Linked DNA regions of Homo sapiens: region 2 is linked to region 1. A link means that fine-mapping ties the variant in region 1 to the expression of a gene that starts in the linked region. Tissue or cell type: whole blood. Region 1 holds a variant in brackets; the other region holds the start of a gene. All regions are shown on one strand. Distances are between the middles of the regions.

The links. PIP is the estimated chance that this variant, and not a neighbour inherited with it, causes the effect.
Region 2: it holds the start of PDCD4, and the variant in region 1 is fine-mapped to the expression of PDCD4 in whole blood (TOPMed, PIP 0.97).

The regions. Positions count from the first base shown.
Region 1 is chr10:110,798,779-110,806,882 of GRCh38, forward strand. It overlaps RBM20 (RNA binding motif protein 20), which reads left to right. Exons shown (of 14, transcript NM_001134363.3): 7 at 1,009-1,140. Among named protein-coding and RNA genes, the nearest start is that of PDCD4-AS1, 68 kb to the right of the region's middle. The variant A/G (reference allele first, on the strand shown) is at 4,026.
Region 2 is chr10:110,866,955-110,875,058 of GRCh38, forward strand. It overlaps PDCD4 (programmed cell death 4), which reads left to right and starts at 4,974. Exons shown (of 12, transcript NM_014456.5): 1 at 4,974-5,064. PDCD4-AS1 (PDCD4 antisense RNA 1) reads right to left here and starts at 3,950. Exons shown (of 1, transcript NR_026932.1): 1 at 1,936-3,950. RefSeq lists enhancers at 595-644, 3,472-4,082 and silencers at 765-834, 5,087-5,136, 5,167-5,316, 5,527-5,726.

The sequences.
Region 1 (8,104 bases):
ACAGTGAGGGCTTCCCTGTCACCGACCCCTTTTCCCCTGCAGCATTGAGGAATCAGGATCAGTATATTGTCAGTATAGTACAAACCAAACAAATCCAAAAAACAATAGCAGCAACAAATTCACCACACCAACTACTGGGGTAAACTGATGCACAGTCAAAACGGTCTCTTTGGAACTCTCAGTAGACACAGGTTTAGTGGAAAAGCCCATTTGTCTGTGTTTTATCAGAGCAGTTAAATAAAGAAGAAAGATGCTGTGGAAACATAATCGGGAAGTTTTCCTTTTTCTTTAACTCACAACAACATGGCCTTCCTTCAAGCCTAGGGGTTTGTGAGTTCCTGAATTTTTTTATAAGGAAAGTAGAACTCAAATAACCAAAGCTTGTGTCTCTTGCTGTCACCATCACCACCAGAGAGCAAGTTTTATAGGGATCAGCTCAAGGCCACATATGCAACTGCCCCTCCAGGGAAATGTGGGTTAGTGGGCTCTTCCATCTCAGAGGTATTCCATGGCATGATGTAGCCCAGGACAGACATACATAATTAATAACAATGTCTGGTAACCCTGGGGATCAGGAAAGGGCCATCTTATAATGAGCTCTTTTGGTGATGTTTATAAAAAGGTCTCTTTGAACAGATGGGATCAAAGAGATCTCTTCCTTGTGCTGACTTTTTTTCCTTTTAAGTGAGGTATAAAACACATACTCTACAGTGCATAATGTACACTCATCCTAAGTGTACAATTCCATTAATCGGTTACATGTGTACACCCATATAATTAACACCCAGGTAAAGATATAGAGCATTTCCAGAATGTCAGGTTTCCTTATGCTTCTTCTCCATCAGTTCCCCATCCCCACCTGAGAGAGAAGCTCAATGCTAACTCCTGTCACCGTTGATTAGTTTTGCCTGTTCTTGAACTTCATAGACGTGGAATCATGCCTTGTGCTGAATCTTGTTTAAGACCATTAAAGTCAAGTCCAGTGAGTGTCCTTCCTTTCTTTCTTAGGCCTTTTTAGAGATGGCTTACACAGAAGCTGCACAGGCCATGGTCCAGTATTATCAAGAAAAATCTGCTGTGATCAATGGTGAGAAGTTGCTCATTCGGATGTCCAAGAGATACAAGGAATTGCAGCTCAAGGTAAAGCATTATCTTGCTCATTCAGTCATTCAACAAGCACCAGATGAGTTTCTCCTCCGTGTTAGGCACTGACCTAAACGCTGGTGGAAAGGAGAGGATAGGAAAAGATTCAGAAATTACACACTGCCTTTGAGGATCTCGAGGCAAACCATTGCAGCATGGCAAGAAAAGTGCTCTTGAGGTAAATACAAAGTGCAAAGAGACGCCTGAGACTACCTGGGAGCCAAGGAAAGTTTTCCAGAAGAAGATGTTCACAGGGGAACTTTTAAAGGAGGAAGTCAGAAGGGAAAGGTGCTGAGAGTTCCAGGCATAAACCCTTGAATACAACCTTCTCTCCCTATACAGACCTTCAGTAACATTTTCTTCTTCTGTCACCCCCTTGATCTCTTGTTCTCTTCTCTCTCCTTCATATTTACGTCTTAAGCCTCATAGAAGTCCTTCTAAGCAGCCCTTGGCTGAATTGGCCACTGTCAGAACTCAGGGATGCATTCAAATAGTTCCAAACCAGGGTTTGCTTTTGTTTTAGCTGATCTACGTTTCTTTCTTTTCTTTCCTTCTTTTTTGTTTTATTGTGAAGTATAACAGAACACACAGAAAAATGGCTGATTATATATTGTATGGTTTAAAAAGTAATAATGGGTGAGATCTCACAAATCCCGTAAAACCACCACCAAAGTCAAGAAATAGAATATGGACAGCATCCAGAAGCTCCCGTGAGTCCCTCCTCCTGTTCAACCCCTCCCTCTCTACTCTCCTGACTTCAATGATAATCATATCTGTGCTTTTCCTTATAGTTCTATCACCTGTATATGCCTCCCTAAACATTATGGTTTAGTTTTGCCTGTTTTTGAACTTTATATAAATGGAATTATGCTGTGTTCTTACAGATCTTGCTTCTTTCATTCAACATGATGCCATCCATGTTGTTGGGCATGTCTATTTATTTTCATTGTTATATACATTTCCATTGTATGGCTATACAGTTTATCCATTCTACTGTTGATGGACATTTGAGTTGTTTTAGGGACAAGGCTAATCTGAACCTTCTCAAACATGTCATCCTGGTATATATGCACTTGAGCATATAACTAGAGGTACATACATAACTAAGATTGAGATAGCTGCATCATAAGGCATGCTTACCTCAACTTTCCTAGATGATAGCAAGCTCTTTCCAAAATTAGTTGTCTCAAATTTATACTCCTACTAGTAGTGTATTAGAGTTTTCGGCCGGGCGTGGTGGCTCACCCCTGTAATCCCAGCACTTTGGGAGACCAAGGTGGGTGGATCACGAGGTCAGGGGTTCAAGAGCAGCCTGGCCAACATGGTGAAACCCCGTCTCTACTAAAAATACAAAAATTAGCCAGGCGTGGTGGCAGGCGCCTGTAATCTCAGCTACTCGGGAGGCTGAGGCAGGAGAATCGCTTTAACCTGGGAGGCAGAGGTTGCAGTGAGCCAAGATTGTGCCACTGCACTCTAGCCTGGGCAACAAAAGTGAAACTCCGTCTCAAAAAAAAAAAAAAAGTTTTCAATGGTCCACATTCTTGCTAACACATTGTCTTGTCCAACTTTTAAATTTTTGCCTGTCGTGGGAGAGTATCATGGTTTATCACAGTTTTGTTTTGTTTTGTTTTTGAGACGGAGTCTTGCTCTGTCACCAGGCTGGAGCGCAGTGGTGCAATTTTGGCTCACTGCAATCTCCACCTCCCAGGTTCAAGCAATTCTCCTTCCCCACCTCCCGAGTAGCTGGGACTACAGGCACACACCACCATGCCTGGCTACTTTTTTTTTTTTTTTTTTTGTATTTTAATAGAGACAGGGTTTCGCCATATTGGCCAGGATGGTCTCAATATCCTGACCTTATGATCTGCCCGCCTCAGCCTCCCAAAGTGCTGGGATTACAAGCGTGAACCACCGTGCCTGGCCAGTTTATCACAGTTTTATATTTTATTCCCCTAATTGCGCATGGAGATTGAGCACTTTTTCATCTGTTTGTTGGCTGTTCCATCTGGATCTTCTCTGATGGGCTGTTTCTTTTCAGGTCATCTGCCCATGCTTTTCTTTTGCATTGTGTCTTCTTATTGGTTTGCAGGAGTTCTCTTAACTGGAGCACGTAGTCTATTTGGATTTCTTGTAATTAATGCTGTATTAGTGTTTGAATCTACCCTCTTATTTTGTGCTTTCTACTGTTCCATTTAATAGGGATTTTCCCGTTCACTTTAGCTCATTCCACATTGACTTAGGGTCCATTTTGTCTAAGACCCACAGGCCTTAATCCACCTTCAAGGTTGAAGTTAGAAGACAAAGGCTTAGTGGATGTTTCTGGCTAGGACTGGCATTCTGACAAGTCTCCATATGTAGATGGGCACTGTGTCAACCAGCTTCCAGAGTCCTGAATCTGCTTTGCTTGCATCATTGCCTCTGAAATTCCTTTACTAACAGTTCTCCTTCAGGCAGAACCTGGCTTTTTTTTTTTTTTTTTTCCTAATAAAAGTATATTGCTTCTTTCAGACAAGTAAGCATCCCACCCCATTCTATATCCAACCAAAGTTCCTGGTCTCCTGGATTCTTCCCTGGGGGCTGGAATTGAATTTCTACACTAAGTTCCCAGTAGAGCTTTGGTCTCCAAATGAGATGTTGTCATAAGTTTCTAATTAGGATTAACGGCAGTAATTGGCTTCTTAAATTAAAGTACCAAAGCATAGCAATACCTTCCTGAGGGAGATAGTTTGGGGTGGTGCAAAAAACATGGGTTAAAGAGGTCAGATGGTCGAGTTTTGCTTTCAGCAAATGTGCACTGAGTGCTCACCGTGGGTGGAACTGGGCCAGGTGCCATGGAGGGAGAAGTAGCAAGCTGGCGAGGAGCTCAGTCTGGTGGGAGAAAA[A/G]GCAAATAAACAAAGAACCACTGACAACCATGTGACCTATCCTAGATTGGAAGATGGTGATGTCAGCCTGGGCTCTACCGCTTCCTGCTTTAGTGAGCTTAGAAAAGTTGCTTAACCTCTGTGAACCTCAGTTTACAGATCAGGAAAGGACTATACTTTGAGTTATTTGGCTTTAAGTATTTTTTTTCATACATTATCTTTTCAGTCTCGTAATCACTGTACCCTGTGAAGTGTGTAGGGTGTATAATAGCAGTAATTATAAGAGTACAACAATAACAATAATGTATACCTTTAATTGAGTCCCGGTACTCTGGGGCAAAGAAGTTTACATACATTATTTAATCCTGACATCAGTCCTGTTAGACAGGTATTATTATCTCAGTTTTACAGATGAGGAATCTGAAGCTAATAGAAATTCAGGAACTTGCCCAGGATTGTACTTAGCTACTGGAAGAGCTATGATTAAAACTTAGTGCTGTTTTGGTTTTGCACTAAAGCTGCATTGTTATAGTGTGTTATCATGATCTCTGTTGTCTATGTGAAAAAAACCTGAGAAATCAGGTAATTTGCTTATAGTCACCCAGCCAAGAAGCCGCAGAGATAGTATTCTAACAGAGCTTCTCAAGCTTCAGTGTGCATACAGATCACTTGGTGATGTTGTGAAAACTCACTTTGATTCAGCATATCTAGGGTAGTGCTGTTATTGCGTATTTCTAACGAGGTCCCAGGAGATGCTGCTGCTGGTGGTCCTCGGAGAACACTTTGAATAGAAAGGGCGCAGAACACATTATTTTCTGATCTTTAGCAGGGCTTTTCTGCTCCCCAAGCTGCCATATTCCCTCTTAAGGCATTGTGAAGGTCGCATGGAATAACAGATGTGAAAACAACTTAATGTATGTCTCAACTACATAGTAATGCATGCTTTATGGTCCCTATGTTGATATGAATCAGCTGCCACTCTGTCTGCACGTAACAGAAATTCATCTCCATTAAGCCTGTTGGCTTAAGCAAAAAAAAAAAAAAAAAAAAAAAAAAAGAATTTATGGATGCATGTAAATGAAACGTCCAGGAGTAGATCTGGCTGCAGGTGCGGCTGGATTCAGGACCCAGAGACCCTCATTAGGACTTGGTTTCTCTCCACGCTGCCTTCTGCTCTTTTGGCTTTGTTTACTGGGGGCTCCCTGGGATGGGCCGTAGCAGCCCAGGCTCTCTCCTCTAGGTGGCATGATGGCTACAGTGACCTCAGCAGCTCTTTCTCCCCCTTCCCTTTCCTTCAACAAGAGAAAGCCAGAGTTTTTTCCTAGAAGCTCCCACAAAAGTCCTGAGACTTTTGAGAGAGAGTCGCTCTGACTGGACTAGCTTAGCACAGGTGCACATTCCTGAATTGATCTCTGGCCAGGGCTAGGCCATGCTGTGATTGGCTGGACCTGTGTCATCTGCTACATCCTCAGAGCTGGGACAGAGACCCACCTAGAGCTCTGGAGCAAGATGAGGGAGGAACAGCTGCTATCAGGAGGAGGGAGAGTGGCTACCGGGAAGGTAGAGGGCAAACACTGTATCCATGTGTGTCTCTGGGCCAAAGGGGCTGCATATGAGGTCCCACCAGGGTTTGCAGAGGTGGGGAGAAATTCTGATTGCTCTTTCTCCTCTAACTTTATCTTTTGCTCACCAGGTAAAGTATAGGGAGAGAAGGGAGAGATTTTAAGGTATTTTTCATTTCCTCTCTTGAATATTTCTTCATGCACATATCTTATCTCCCCATATACTTCCTGTGGCAAGGGAGTTCCTCAGCTTATTTGAGGCAGAACCTTTCACATGATAGATGTTTAATAAATATGCAAAATGAATAAGAAAGAGAAAATCTGAAGGAACAACAAAAAGTGAGTAGCCTTCTTCCTGCAGACCTGGACAAGATGATTGGAATATATTCTGGGTTGTTCTATGGAAACTTCGTCAATAAGTATGGAATCATAATCTCTCTGATGCAGAAGTGAACTTGGAATAATTTAAACCAGTGTCTCCCAGTCACTTCATCAGAGGGTCATCAGGGGATTTTTTGTGGGGGGAGTCCTCTTGCCCAGAGATTCTCTTCAATAGGCTTCGGGTGGGAATGAGACTCCCAGGTGCTTTTGAGGGCAGAGGGTCTGGTTTCAGAGCCATTGGTCTTGCCAGCCTCCTCGCTACAGAGAGGGCTTCTGGCCCTGGGAAGCAGTCTTGTGAATGGTCCATGGTGCTCTCAGTTGGGAAGATGATTGAGAGTCTTCTCTATGTGCTGATAGTTACAAAGCAATACAAGACATGGTTCTCAGTTGGGAAGAGTTCACTCTCCAACTGGGAGACAAATTATTCTTGTGCAAAATTACACAAGATTTAAACATGAGTGCATAAGTACAGGAGCTACCAGAAGTTCCATGGCAAAAGGCAGTGTGACTGAGGGGTGTGAAAAAGGGAAGAGATTCCTAAACAAGGCCTTGAAGAAGGGGAGAATTAGCTAAAGAGAGACAGAGCTTCCAGGCAGGAGTCGGGTGAGTGATGATGTCGAGCCTAGAAAGCCTGGTAATGTTGAAACAGTCAGGGCTGCCTTGACAGGATCTGGCTCAGATGAGTTCTGGGCTCATCTAGAAGGTTTCAGTGTCTTCCCAGGACTCTTGAAGTGTGTAAAACAGGTGTGGAGTTGTCAGAGGGCATGAAACTTTCCAGCAGCTCCCTTCATGTTGGCCAAGCACTCTGTGACTTTTACGGGTGTAGCCTGCCATGCCCTGAGGCTTTTGGTGGATGCCAGATGGGCCTCATTAACCCACCTTCACTGGTGGAGAAAGTGAGTTTCCCATCGGCAATAAGCCTTGACCCAGGGTGACCTAGCCAGGTGCGGGCAGGGCTGGGGCTGCTCTTCCTGGGTTGAGATTCCTAGTGGTGGTGCCTCCCTCTTAATATGCCAGCACTTTTCTAGGACTGCATGGGGCTTGGAATCTCACCCTTGTCTTAAAAGCAGCAAGATGTGTTAACTCTGAGCACTGTAGTTGGTCCCTTGTGGGGCTGTTGAGCGGAATCATTGTCATCACAGAATGGATGTAAAGATAACAATGTCTGACGTTTGCTTCAAAATAATATAGGGGGTGGGGAAGGAGGGTGGTGAGTACAGATGTGTATTAGTCCGTTCTCACACTGCTTTAAAGAACTGCCTGAGGCCAGGCCGTGGTGGCTCACGCCTGTAATCCCAGCACTTTGGGAGGCCGAGGTGGGCGGATCACTTGAGGTCAGGGGTTCAAGAGCAGCCTGACCAACATGGTGAAACCTAAACTAAAAATACAAAAATTAGCCAGGTGTGGTGGCGGGCACCTGTAATCCCAGATGCTTGGGAAGCTGAGGCAGGAGAATCGCTTGAACCCAGAAGGCAGAGGTTGCAGTGAGCCAAGGTCGCACCACTGCACTCCAGCCTGGGACACAGTGTGAGACTCCGTCTCAAAAAAAAAAAAAAGAACTACCTGAAACTGGGTAATTTATAAAGAAAAGAGCTTTAATTGGCTCATGGTTCCACAGGCTGCATAGGAAACATGGCTGTGGAGGCCTCAGAAAACTTACAGTCGTGGCAGAAGGCAAAGGGGAAGCAGACATGTCTTTCATGGCCAGAGCAGGAGTTAGAGTGGGAGCAGGGAGGTGCTACACACTTTTAAACAGCCAGATCTCGTGAGAACTCTGTCACGAGAGTAGTACTGGGGGATGGTGCTAAACCATTAAAAACCACCCACATGATCCAGTCACCTCCCACCAGGCCCCACCTTCAACATCTGGGATTACAATTGAACATGAGATTTGGGTGGGGACACAGAACCAAACCATATCAAAATGCAACAAGATTAGTCATCATTGTTGGCTGAAGATGGGTAATGGATTCTTCGGGGTTCAGTAAACCATTCTCTCTACTTTTGTGTATGTTTGAAATTTTCTACAATGAAAAGGTAACCAAAATTTTATCATAGACCTACTCTTTTCTCTCCCATTTCAATTTTTCTGGGGTGATTACAGCTTTGTTTCACCTGCCTTCTTTATGCCTTTACCCACAGAATACAGAAGCTGGC
Region 2 (8,104 bases), 68 kb after region 1:
GCATTAATAGTAAATCTAGGTGCTTATCTTTTGCCTTCAACTGTGCTTTTTCAAGTACTTTACCCAAATTAATTAATTAGTGCTCCTAAACCCACACCAGCCATCACTTTGCCTTTGGGATGGAGGGAGGTGATATTATCTGAGCTTTGCATTAGGAGAAAGCCCCTGGGTTGACAGTCCCTCTGTCCATACCCGGTGGAATCCTCTCCTGCCAACAGTGGCAAACTCCTTTGTTTGTTTGTTTTGAGGTGGAGTCTGTCTCTGTCACCCAGGCTGGAGTGCAGTGGCGGGATCTCAGCTCACTGCAACCTTCGCCTCCTAGGTTCAAGAGATTCTCCTGCCTCAGTCTCCTGAATAGCTGGGACTACAGGCATGCACCACCACGCCCAGCTAATTTTTTTGTATTTTTAGTAGAGATGGGGTTTCACCATGTTGGTCAGGCTGGTCTCAAACTCCTGGCCTCAAGTGATCCGCCCACCTTGGCCTCCTAAAGTGCTGGGATTACAGGCATGAGCTACCACACCCGGCCAGCAAACTTTCTTATCTCTTGTTCTCCATTCCCAGGACTCCCATGGTACCAACTCAGTACCTTGCTCAGCATCCCAGGGTGTTAGAACTGAATGGCTGCTTATGGACTCCCTGCAATGGGCACCTCCTTCTTTTACAGCACAGAAAATTGAAGCATTCAATTCACTCAGGGAGAGGAAGTGAAACACCCAAAGCAACACAGCTAGTTAGGGACAGGGTCACTACCTTGTCTTAAGAGGCGAAAAATAGGAACTATCTCCCACCCTCTCCCCTGACAAAACCAAACACTCTTTGCGCCCCTCCAAGTATCTCAATACTGCTTAAGCCTGAGGAGTACGGGGAAGATGAAGTATGTAACGTTTATCTACTCACAAAGCACAGAGTTTCTGTTGCCACCTCTGAGCAGCTGTCTTGTTCTGGGCAACTGTGATCTCCCTTCCTCTCCTAAGCTCTTGGAATGAATCTTTCTTAAGGGAAATGGAAGTTGCAATTCCATTATTCTGTATAGAGTGAGTTAAGGGGAAGGCCTCTCTCCTTTTCTGTCATCTAATAGCTAAATTAACATAAGCCCATAGGCACAGGGATTCAGGTAACAGAAACCTAGTTTGTGACAATTACAACGTGAAATGAAAACATACATTGTGGCCCAGAAGCCCGGGCAGCCCTAGGCTTCAGATATTACCTACCCTAAAGTAGTATAATGCCTTTTACCAAGAACACAGCTGAATCAACTGTGCTTTTCATAGAACAGGCACACACTAAAATATTTGTGGATTGATTTGGTAGGCAAAAATTCTTGGCACTTGGATACTTCTCCATTTTCAGCTTATTCTTAAAAAAATTTTTTTTGTTAAATGTTCAGCTGCAAAGGCACAGGTGACTAAGTGTTCAACACAGCTGGAAGGAATGTTGGTGACAGTGGCTGTCATCTATATTTCCCAAGTTGGTTTCTAAATAACACTGCTTCTGGGGTATCTTGAGAAAAAAAGGTTCTGTGTTTAAACAAGGTAGGAAACATTACTAATCTTCCTACCTTGGTCTCCCAAGACACTAAAGGCACATAGCTTATTAAAAACACTGAGAAGGCTGGGCACGGTGGCTCATGCCTGTAACCCCAGCACTTTGGGAGGCCGAGGAGGGCAGATCACTTGAGATCAGGGGTTCGAGACCAGCCTGGCCAACATGGTGAAACCTCAACTCTACTACAAATATAAATATTAGCCAGGCGTGGTGGCAGGCGCCTATAATCCCAGTTACTGGGGAGGCTGAGGCAGGAGAATCACTTGAATCCAGGAGGCACAGGTTGCAGTGAGTCAAAATAGTGCCATTACACTCCAAACTGGGCGACAAGAGCAAAACTTCATCTCAAAAAACAAACAAACAAACAAAAAACCACTGAGAAGAGTTGTGGGTAAAGAAACAGTTTTATTTTTGTTTAAACGAGTTATTTCCAAGACCATTTGACCATGGAACAATCCCTCCCACATTTTTTTTTGCATGATATCTATTAAAGTTCCACAAAATTCATGTTCTTTGGAAAATAACTTGGGAATTACTGATTGAGCCCAATTTCTGAATTTTATTGGTAAAGAAAAAGGTCCTGAGAGGGGCTGAAGTTCTTACAGGAAGTTAGTGGGGGAGGTAGGACGACAACCCTATTTCCTGAGTGTCTGGCCCAACCTTGTCAACCACACGCAAATACGGCAGCATTCTCAAAGGTGGGTTCTGGGATCCCAGCCATCATGGGTACTGCTTGAGATGATACGCAAAAAGGACATGAACGTTTTCCTCCCTAATGGGTCCTTTGGGGGCAATTTGCTAAAACATAACAGGTTGTTTTAGATGCTTCTTAAAATTGGTAATCATATCCCATTCTTTCTTTATCTCATAGAACTCGGGATGCCTACCCAACACAGCCTGATTATGCTATATGTGCTTAGTAAGTACATTCAATGAATGACTAAATGAAAGACAGGGAGGAAGAAGGAAACAGTCCAGAACTGAAAGGGATGAGAAGAGAAAAAATGTGGAGAAAGAGAAGGATGGGTAACAAAGGAGCCAGCAGTCACTGATCAGTAGAGTATAGGTGAGAGAGGGGAAAGGAGACAGCTGCAGATAATGGAAAATAACAAAACAAAACTGAGGTCTGGGAAGCTCCGATTTTAAAAAGTGAACATGAGTTATGAGACTAATTCAGATACTGGCCACACCAGGAGGCCCCCGCCCAGGAGATGAGGATGACCACCAACTGCTGAGAATCTTTGTAAACTCAAATCAAGGTGTATTTATTGCACAGGCACAATAAATGAACAAGGCATCTTAAGTACTACAATGACAGGTGAGTGGGTCAGGCACAGTGGCTCACGCCTGTAATCCCAGCACTTTGGGAGGCCGAGGCAGGCAGATCCCTTGAGCTCAGGAGTTCAAGAGAAGCCTGGGCAACATGGCAAAACCCCATCTCTACTAAAAATACAAAAAACTAGCTGGGTGTGGTGGCACAGGCCTGTAGTCTCAGCTACTTGGAAAGCTGAGGTGGGAGGATGGCTTGACCCCAACAGGTTGAGGCTGCAGTGAGCCAAGATTGCACCACTGCTCTCCAGCCTGGGCAACAGGGCAAGACCCTGTCTCAAAACAACAACAACAACAAAATCACAGATGAGTAAGACACAGGTCTTTCCCTAAACAAGGTTACAGTCTAATGGGCAGAAGGGCTAGGACAGGGACTCAGATGAAATAATGCCAGGTAGAATGTGATCAGTGCCCCTGGAGGTGTGGCAAGCCAACACTGTGAGGAATCAGCGGCAGGAAGATCATATCAAATCACGAGGCTCCAGAAAAACTACGAGGGTCCAGGAATGGTGGCTCACGCTTGTAATCTCAACGCTTTGGGAGGCAGAGGTGGGCTGATTGCTTGAGCCCAGGAGTTCAAGACCAGCCTGGACAACATGATGAAACCCTGTGTGTACAGAAAATACAAAAATTAGCTGGGCATAGTGAGCTGTGCCTGTAGTCCCAGTTACTCAGGAGGCTGAGGTGAGAGGATCGTTGAGCTAGGGAGGCTGACGGAGGTCGAGGCAGCAGTGAGCTGTGATCATGCCACTGCATTCTCCTGGGCTAAAGGGCAAGCCCCTGCCTCAATTAAATAAAACAACAACAACAACAAAATAAAAAACTACCAGGAAGGGCCATGAGGCACAGAAGGATTGCATCAGGCGGAGATAGGAGATGAGAAGAGAGACATTTCAAGGTGATATATAAAGAACTACCAGGGGGTGAGGAAGCATATGGGGAGATGTGTGGAGACACAGCCTGAAAGTCTTGAAGTCACATCACGGAGCCTTGAATGACCGACCGAGGCGCTGACACTCAAGAGAGGCAATGGGAAGCCAGTGAAGGTTTGTGTGTGTGTGTGTGCGTGTGTGTGCAGAGAAATAGTAGCATTAGAGATGATTCCCAGGCAGGGTGACTGGGCAGCCAAGGGAAAGCGCTGGCCTGTGCGGGATGAGGCAGTTGGGTTCTGGAGAGCACAAGCAATCATTCGGTGCTGCCCATCAGACAACTGAAAAATCTGATCAGAGGCAGTGGCTAAGTCCCCGCCTGGGAACACAAAGGAAGCCTAAGGTTCTGGTTATCACCCTCAGGGGACCGTGACCTTGAAAGAGTAAGGATAGTACCAGCCAAAACCAATGCAGCCAAGAGGAAAAGTCACAGAGAACAGCGAGGGGAGGTGGAAGTTTCAATACAGAAATTGTAGCCATGGCTGAGAACCCCAGCACTGGAGGCCGGAATTTGTGCGTTTGAACGCCAGAGGCTTGGCTAGTCATGATTAGCAAAGGAACTTCAAAGAGTTTTGGAGCCTGCTTTATATCTGTGAAATGGGAATTATTTCCATCTCAAAGGTTTGAGGGGATTCGCTGAGAGAAACTTCTTAGCATGGGATCTCCAGAAACTGGAAGCCACAGAGAAAGCAGCGGCCAGAGGGAGGAGGAATCGGACAGGCTGATCACTTGGAGTGTTCGCCTAAGCAGTTTCTAGAAATGGAGGCAGGGACCATCAGGAAGCTCAAAACCTTTGCTTCAGCCGAGTTTGCAGAACGCCCTGTGAGGAGAATGGGTGAGCTGGGTCGAGGAAGCTTCATCCTCGTCCCCATCCCCCAGCACTGCCCTTTTCCCAACGCTCCCATCCCGCCACGCCTCCCAACATACCCCCACCCCGACTTCCCGCTCAACTCCCGCTCCAGCCAGTCCCAGGAGCCACATGCGCATGCGCCCTCCCGCGCCCCTCCCCAACTTTCCACGTTTCACTCCTCTCCCTTTTCCTCCTCAGCTCCGGCTCCGCCGCCACGATTGGCCAGCCGACCACCCGGCCTCGGCCAATAAGCGCCGCCCTCTCGCCCCCGTGTTACTGGGTAGAAGAAAACAAAAACAAACAGAGCGAGAAGGGCCAGAGACTCTCCGAGGCGGCGGCAGAGACAGAAGAGCGGGGTCGGGGCCGGCTGACCAGGAACCTGGGCGAGCAGCGGCGGGGGCCCGAGGGGTCAGTACCAGTAGGCGCGGCTCACACGCTCGGGAAGACTGCGCCCTCTCCCCCATCCCTCCTCGGAGGCAGCCGCAAGATGGGAGGGGGCGGGGGCGGAGGCGTGGGGGTCGCGGTCCTGTCAGGTCCGGGCCTGCGGTGCGGGGGTCCGGCTGCCTTCTTGTAGCCCCGCAGGTCCAGCCGCGCCCTCCCCAACGCCCCGGACTGCGGGCATCCGGCCTGGTTCCCTCTTTCTGAGCCCAGCCTGGAGCGTGTCGGCGCGGGCCCGCCCCCTCCCGGAGCCATCTCCCCACTGAGAGGGGCGCGCGAGGCGCTCGCCCTTGAAGGTCCCCCTCAGCCCTCCTCCCCCTCTGGCGGAGGTTGAATTCGGGGGCCGGGATTGGAAGGCGTGTTTCCGGCTGGACTGAAATCCTGTGAGGAAGATTCGCGCCCTCCCCGCCCCCTGCCCTCCCTGGGAATCCTCTGAAGATGCGGCCCCCTGTCCTTCGTGAACCCGGAGCCCCGGCCTCGGCCCCGGCCCAGCCCCTTCCGGGGGCCGACCCGGGCTGGGACTTCGGGGGTCCTAGCCTGAGCCCGCTGCGGGAGAACAGGCCCGGCCGCTGTGGGGAGGGGCCGCGCGCTATCCTCGCCGGGGGCGCTGGGAGGCGAACACGTGCCCGCCGCCCCATCCCTGCGCGAACTTCGTCGCGCCCGTCTTCCGGCAAAGGGTCTCTTTTTTTTAGTTTAGGTAAAATAAAATCTCCCAGAGAAAACAAAGCCGGGAAGGGAGCCCCCTTTCTGTGAAACGCATGCCATCTTCTCCATTTGTCAGTTTGATGCTGTAACGTACATGGGGTTTTGCAAGAGCTTCAAAACTGTCTGCAGACGTCAATTTCGCCCCCCTCCCCCTTGTGAGAACTCGCTACGTAGCCAGCAACTGTGTAGTGTCTACAAATGATGAAAACGATCAGAAATGCGATTAGGTGTCGGGGAAAAAAGGGTTTCCCCTGTTTTTAACTTGTATTTTTACTTTAATTGTTACAATCTTGATATTCTTAACGTGACTTTTTTGGGAAACCACCAAGTGCTTTTTAAGCAAGGAGTTACTGGTATTTATGCCCTTAATATTCCTTCATTATAGGCTTATTGAATACGTTAATATCTCAGTAAGTGTATTTGAATTATAATTGACTGGCTTTTTCTGTGGTACTAATGTGAAAGGAAAAAATATTAGGACTGCAAAAATAAATGCCGCTTGAATATTATCTGTAGTGCTTGCTTTTGCATTACTGTAGTAGAATGCTTTTAGCTGGTTTTAAGCTGCTAATTAGCCGTTCGTAGCCGAAGAATGAATACAAGTAATCCTAGTTAATAAATGGCCAAAGCTTGACTCCCCAAAATGCCAGAGCAATTTATGAGGTATATTTCAGGAAATACATATGTATATATTTCGTGGGGGAGTGGAGGGTCTGTCTCTTAGGGAATGTCTTGGCAGTTGAATACTTCTGATTGTATATTTCGTGTAACACACTGGAGAAAAGAACAGTGTTTAATGTCAGCCTTCATTTTCTTCTAACTTGTATGTATAGTTTTCTCATCGAAAATTCATTTTTGTAGGTTAGTATGAAGGAAATAGCGTTTGGATTTTTTGCTTTATATTTTCTTGTTTGGGCCAATTAAGGGTTGTTAAATAAATTGGAAAAAATCCTACTACTTTAAAGAGCGTAAAAACGTGGAACATGTCTTATCTAAACTCTTAAAACGTGTTTGTTGCTGTCAAATATGACTTGAGTTCCTGATCGGGTTATCATTGCCTAAAGACACAGGACTATTTTTTTTATTAAGATAACTTTGTTTTTATCTTAATAAAAGAGATGATAGTCATTTCCTGACAGTTTTGTCTGACGGAATGCCTTCTGTATAATAGTTTAAAATAATTATTTTTAGTGTTTGGAAAACAGCATTTAAAAGTTTGAACAGCAGAAGTCTGTTTTAAGAAGCTTCTGTTAACCCTTGAAAAGAATCTTCCTGTGGGATATTAAAATTTTGGATTGAACTTGTGCAAACAGTACTGGATTTGGAAGGTCTGGATTCTCATCCTGGCTGTTCCACTAAGCAGCTGTCTGTCCTTGGACATATCACCTACCCTCTCTGAATCTGTTTAGTTGTGTGTAAGGTGGAATACCTACCCGAAGGTTTTTCTGTAAGGTACATTAAATAATACATGTACAATTCTTTTTGAATTGTAAAGGGCTTTATGAACATCAATTATAATCATTTCGCTTATTAGGTTCTGCAGAAAGTATTCTCTCAAAAGTTATACTTTCATCAAGAATGAAAAAGACTTTGTAATGGAACTCTAAAAAACTGAAACACGTATCATATGACATTATTCCTTTCCTATATGTATTTCATGCATGGAATTAAAACAGAATGTAGCCTTTTCAGCCATGAAGGATGCTGAGTGTTTAGATTTGCAAACCATTTTTGTTCATATATTTATATGAATCTCTACATATTTTTAAGATTTTTTTTTCATATCTAAAGTTGGCGGGAGTTATAGTGAAAAGTGATTATAAAGATTCACATATATTAATTTATTCTTAACAGAATTAGAGAATGATCTCACCATTTTCTTAAGTTCCCAAGCAATATGATAGCATATTAGTCTGAGGATTATACCATAGTAAGAAGCCTATAATTTTAACATAAGGTCCATTTGTTTTTGTTTCACAAAATAATACCGTTTTCTGAAGAAAAGGGCTATAAACTTATGTTAGCAAATAGTAGTACATAATGAGGAATTTAAAAGTCAGTTTCACCTTTGAGTCCCAGGAGGCTCTGTATATATCATTGTTATCCTAAAATGACATCTAACAGTAGGTTAAGTTATATAGGAAAAAATGTGCTTTTCTGTAATTAATTTATTAGGCATTTTCACTAATTTGTGCATTTTATATCTCTGAAGAGCACACTGCTAGCAACCTGATTGTAAATGACCAGAAGGACTTATATCCAACCTATGTGACTTAAACATACACTTAAGTACTCTAAACCACTA